Linked DNA regions of Homo sapiens: region 1 is linked to region 2. The links come from fine-mapping of genetic effects on gene expression. A gene starts in region 2. The other region holds a variant in brackets. All regions are shown on one strand. Distances are from middle to middle.

Evidence for each region.
Region 1: its variant is fine-mapped to the expression of LAPTM5 in whole blood (INTERVAL, PIP 0.96).

The regions. Positions count from the first base shown.
Region 1 is chr1:30,733,494-30,736,402 of GRCh38, forward strand. LAPTM5 (lysosomal protein transmembrane 5) reads right to left here. Exons shown (of 8, transcript NM_006762.3): 7 at 1,680-1,772; 8 at 1-424. The coding sequence ends at 335. Among named protein-coding and RNA genes, the nearest start is that of MIR4420, 4.3 kb to the right of the region's middle. RefSeq lists an enhancer at 1-332. The variant C/T (reference allele first, on the strand shown) is at 1,702.
Region 2 is chr1:30,756,643-30,759,551 of GRCh38, forward strand. It overlaps LAPTM5 (lysosomal protein transmembrane 5), which reads right to left and starts at 1,132. Exons shown (of 8, transcript NM_006762.3): 1 at 1,017-1,132. The coding sequence starts at 1,103. RefSeq lists enhancers at 1-735, 864-1,143, 2,212-2,281.

The DNA.
Region 1 (2,909 bases), 23 kb before region 2:
CTGAACTGATCAAGTCGATAGTTGCTTGACAAACTCACCAACTTTAGAATGGCCAATCGTCTAAACAAGTGTCAGAGCTGATTGAAATAAACCAAGCATTGTTGGGCTGAATTATGGAGAGACCCGAGGAGTGACTCAGCCTAAAGCGTTGACCCAGTTGTGAGCAGCTCACAGGCCCTGCAGGAGGAGCAGGCCAGCGAGGGAGACACAAGCAGATTGTCCTGCCAGGGAGGGGCGGGAGGGCCCACCCAGGCCACAGGGGCCACCAAAGCAAAAAAGCAGATTATGAGGCAGCTCCACCCCTCCCAGCACTGGGGCTGGGGCCTGGCGAGGGTCACACCTCTGAGTATGGGGGTGGTGCTGGGCCCCCCTCTGGGGTCTTCGATGGCAAAGACAGGGCTTCCTCGTAGGACGGCAGGACCACCTGGGAGAGACAGAGAGATGAGGGCTGAGTATGGTCAAGAATGACCTGCAATTCCAACCTGGGGTCATGGGACCCAAACCCCCACCTCTGGCAAAATGATGATGATAATGACTGGCAGGTCTTGGATATTTGCTATGTGCTAGACATTGCCTGCATGAGATAGGTGCAGTTCCCAGCCCTGTAGTGGACATATTTGCCTTTGCCTATTCAGCATCAAGTCCCCCTTATTTTGAAAACAGTGCACCATTTTCCTTGGGAAAACATTCTCAGTCCATATACCTTCAGAAGAACTGGTCCCATCCCTCAGATCCAGCGAGGTGGCTGGACTTGGCCACTCAAAGTAGAATTCCATCCCCCTGGCTATAGTCCTTGGTTTGGGGATAGGCACGTGGCCCAAGTTGGTCCAATCAGACATACTCCTGGGACCTTCTTTTTCTGTTGGGATTTCTGAGAGGGTGGGATATCTGCCTAGGGGTTTTGGCAGCCTTTTTGCCACCACAAGGGATGGGCTTCCGGAAAATGAAGCCAACATCAAGGAAAGTAGAGTCAAGAGTTGGAGAGGACGAGATCATATCCTGATGTCAGGACTCAGCCAGGCCCAAGCCAGACCTACATTTGGCTGCTAAGTTCTGTGAGCTAGTAAATTCCTGAAGTCAGATTGAGTTGGGTTTCTGCCACTTGCAACCAAAAGTGTCTTAGCTAATACAATCTCCACCTTACAGGTGAGGAAAGTAAGTTACCAGGAATTTAAACCGTCACTTTCCAATAAGCTGCTTCTAAGCACACCTCATCCTCTCTTCCCGGAAAGCCTCCTTCTGCTTTCCCAGCTATCTCATATCCATTGACCCTCCAAGACCAGTTAACTGTCACCTCCTCCAGGAAGGCTTCCCTGATACCTGAGAAGAGGCCAGGTCCTTCCTCTGTGCTTATTGTCCCTGTGCTTCACACCAAGTTGTAATTGTATCTATGTGTCTGAACTGTACACTCCTCTAAGGCAGAGGTGGCATCTTAGTTTTCTCTGCGCCTCCTGGAATCGATATGAGACTAGCAAAGAGTGAGAGGCAGTAAATACTGAATAAATGAATGAGTGAGTGAATGAATCTTAGACTACCAGAACTGAAAGAGAACACATTTCTTCTGTTCCAACCCTCATCTTACAAATAGAGAAACCAAGGTCCAGAGAGGGAAGGAAACTTGACCCAAATGGCACAGGGAGTTAGTGACAGGGCTGGCACCCACCTGCAGCCACACTCACCTTCTGGAGCATCTTGGAGTTT[C/T]TCTTCTCCTCCACCGAGTTCATGCACTTGATCAATCTGTAGCACCGCCACACGCACTTGAACATGTAGACCTGGAAAAAGGCCCAGGTCAGGCTGTGCTTTGCTGAGCGTCCTTCTCACGCTCCAGCAGGCCTAGGACATATGCCAGGCAGGAGCCACCACTCTCTCCAGAAGCCAGCATCCAGCTGCTCCTGCTCGGACCTCTCATTCTGGTTGGGGGTTCCTCACCAGCCAGTCCAGAATATTCCAGGTATTGCCCTTTTCATTGCCCCACAGATACCACATAGCAAGGGGATTTGGGGGGCTTCTAGCCCACCCTCCAATTTCCCTGGCAATAGTCCCACAGCTCCTGCTTGACTGCCCACACTGCCTGGAAGCTCACTACCTCCTGAGACAGCCCTGCCCATCTCGAAACAGAGCTGATGGTGGGACATGTTTTCTTCAAAATTGCTTCCGATATGTTGTTTTCTGAAGCAGATTACAAAACAGCATGTGCAGTATTGGTCCATGTTTATAAAGGAGGAACAGTTAGTACATGTCCATCAGCTGATGCAAGTTAATGTAAGAATTGGGCAGAAGCTTTCCAGAGTGGGGCATACAATCCCAAGGGGCAAGCTCAAGAAACAACAGAAAACCCCCAGGATGCCCCCTGAGTAAGAGGAGAGGGTCCTGTACTGGAAGGTCTTGTTTGATGGATTCCCTGATGGGCACATAGGTGGGGCAAGGAGACATATGGAGGTACGGAGTGACAAAGAATGAAGCATGAAGGCCCAGGGAAAATCAAGTCGGTGGAGGGGGCCAGAGAGGCAGAATGAGGGTCAAAGAGGGAAGCCCCTCATTCTGGAGGATAAAAAACAGAAGGGGAGCTGGGGGACGGAGCTGTGTGCTGGGGTCTGCGGAGGGGTCCTGCAGTAGAGAGTGCCATGGAAAGCCCACACTGGCTTCCCCCATGAGGCCTTCAGGGGTGTTCTCACTGTACACTCACTAGTGCGTTTGTGCTAGGTCAGTCCTTGGAGAAGATGCTAAAAGGGGCAAGGTTCTGTTTCTAGGTTGGCATTAGGTGACAGCAGAGACTGCCCAGGGCCTCAGATGGAAGCAGGAGCTGGGGTCTGCAGATGCCCACCCACCACCACAGAAAGGCTGGGGGGAAATGCACCCAGTTGTCAGCAGTGATGCTCTCTGTGTGGGGTGTGGATGGTGGAGTGCTT
Region 2 (2,909 bases):
TGGGCTCTTGCCACAGCTCTGCCTGCCCTGCCTGTGACAGGAAGCAGACGCAGGCAGGTCTGAGTTTGCAGCAACCCACCGCAGCATGTGGATCTAGGCTAATTTTGAGGAAGCCCTTCCAGACTCATGAGAAAACTGTTAACCACAGGCCCTGAGTCACCCCAGGAGGAAGTCGCTTGGGTCTAGGGGAGATGAGTGTGGCCAGGAGTTTGGGAGTAGGGTGGGTCTAGGCAGGACAGTACAAGGACACTGACCCTCAGCCACCCCAGGCAGAGGGGCAGCCTTGGCCCCCGGGCACTGTGACTTGCCCAAGACCACACTGTGAGTCACCAGGAAAGGAGGAACCAGTGACAGCCGTGACTTCACAAGTTGCCCAACAAGAGCTTGGGCCGGACAAGTTACCCTAATGATTAGCACAGGTCTCAAGTTCTCTTTGGTGGGCAGAAGGCCGTGGTTTGACTGAGCTGGAAGCTGAGAGGACACGGCCCCTGCCTCCCCACTGGAGGCACAAAGGGGAGATCCCCACTTCTCATCCCCTCGAGTGGCCCAGGCTCCCTCCAGGCCCCAGGGGAAGAATCGGGGCTGTGTCTGCGGCCGACCTCACATCCCGGTCAAACAATCCCAGCCCACGTTCCTCCCAAGATCCCTGCCTTCCAAAGCACTTTCACATCTGCTGTTGGCTTTGCACACAAATAACCTTCCGGCTGCTGCTGTGCCCCATCTCACAGAGGCAGAAACGGAGCCAGCCTCGGAGTGAACGTCAGTTACATTTGCCTGGAAAGTGGATTCCAGCTCCCTTACTCCTCACTCTTGCGGCATCTCCCCAGGGTACCCCCAGCCATTTGACAGAGAAGGAAACTGAGGCCCAGAGCAGGACAGGGATTTGCCCAGGGTCCCCCAGAGAGGTGGAGAGCAGGAGTTCTTTCATTTGTGGGGCTCCGTAGATGACGGGTCACCGCAGACATTCACACTCACACAAGCACGCACGCACACACACCCGGGGCCCGCACACTCACCACATGGTAGATGGCCAGGGCGGTGGTTGCGATGCGGACATTGAAGCAGCAGCAGGTCTGGCGGACAGTGGACAAGCGGGGGTCCATGGTGCTGCCGTCCCCTCCTCTGAGACACTGAAGGGGAAAGAGCCTGGTGCCTGGAGCAGGGCAGAGAAGGGGAAGCTGCTGGCTGCCCTCCTCACTTCCTTCCTGCCCCTTAGACAGGCAGGGACAAGGTCGTCACAGCTGGGGCGGGGCAGCTGGGGAGGGGGAGTGGGGACAGGGCAGCAGCCTGCCTCAGAGCACCCCACTGCCCTCTGCCATTCCCAGGAGGGGGTTCCAGAGAGGACAGACCCTAACACGGTCATCATGCCCTTCTCTGCACCAGGGCCAGGGTTCCACCGTTTCACACAGCTTGCTTACTAGAAGAACACTACCAACTTTGGAAGCCAGGACTGTTACCAAGCCCATTTCCAGATGAGGAAACAGCTGTCCAGAGAGGTCAAGGCACTTGCCCCAAATCACACAGTAGTTAGCACTGGTGGCAGAATTCAAACCCAGATCTGTCTGGCTGCAAAAATAGCTATTGTCTAGGAGGCATTTCCTGCCTCTTCCAGGCATGCTCCTGGATTCACTCCTTTCATCCTCACCTCAATCCTTTGAGAGAGGTACTATTATGATCCCCATTTTACAGATGAAGAAACTGAGGCACAGAGAGGGGGAATGATTCGTGCAAGGTCACACAGCTAGTCAATGAAGGTGCAAGGATTTTAACTGAGGCTGACTGGTGCTAGAAGCCTCCCTGGAGCTGGTGTTCTCTCCCACTTCCTCACCCTGAGCCGCAGGGAGAAGCTTGTTCTTCCTAAGCTACGAAGAGGCGTGCAGGGCTCCAGACAAGGACGGAAGAATAACCAGGAAGCAAACCCATCAACTGTGCGCCAGGCCCTGGGCTAGGCTTCTCTTCTAGGTGGGTCAATAACTCTTCACAGCAATCTGTGAGACCCGAACCTCACTTTCAGGGCCTCAAGACCCAATCCCCATACTCACACAAAATCAGGGATTGCTTTTCCCCCTTGATCTTGCAAAAAGTTGGAATTAATAAGCCACAACTCTTAGGCAAGCTACCCTGGAATCTCTACTCCCTCCTCAGATGATAAATTATCCATATTGCAATAAAGAAAGGGAATAGGAAGTACATGCAACATTTCTGGAAGAAGCCCTGCTTCATTCCACAGCTGAGCCCCTTTGCAATGCCAAGCTTCTAGTGCAGAGCAGACAGGAACTGCCATGAAGCCCTGCCCTCCCAGGAGATCATGGAGTTAGGATTGGACACTGCTGCAGCCCATCATTTCTGCCCCAGGAGAGGTTATAGAAAGTCCCTAAGCTCCTCCCACTTGGCAGGAGTTGCTCTGTTAGACCCACAAAACTTGATTGGTGGACTTGATCAATCCATTCTCCATGTGCCAATGAGACCAAGGGGACTCTGCAAGCTTTGGGCTCCTGGGAGGCCTGGCCTATCCCTTCCCAACTTCATTTTCAAGGCTGTTCCTGTTCCTTCATAAGCCTTGCTGAGGCCTGACATCATAGAAAGGTGACACAGTGCAGTGGTTAAGAACTTTGGCTCCACAGGCCCATGGCCTGGGATCTTCTGGCTGGGTAGGCAGAAAACCAAGAGAAGTCCTCCTTTGTCTAAGAGTAGCAAGACCAGAGGAACTGGAGATCAGGAAACCAGGGGCCAGGAGGGCCCTGAGGCCATGCTGGGGAGTCTGCATTTGATTGTGCACAGAAGCCATTTGACGATTTCCTACCATAATAAATGATAGCCATTCATAACATTGTGATTTGGTGAAACCAGGACAGGTGCAAAGCCAACTCCCAAAGAGAGGGATGAAACACACTGACAGCATGTGGAAT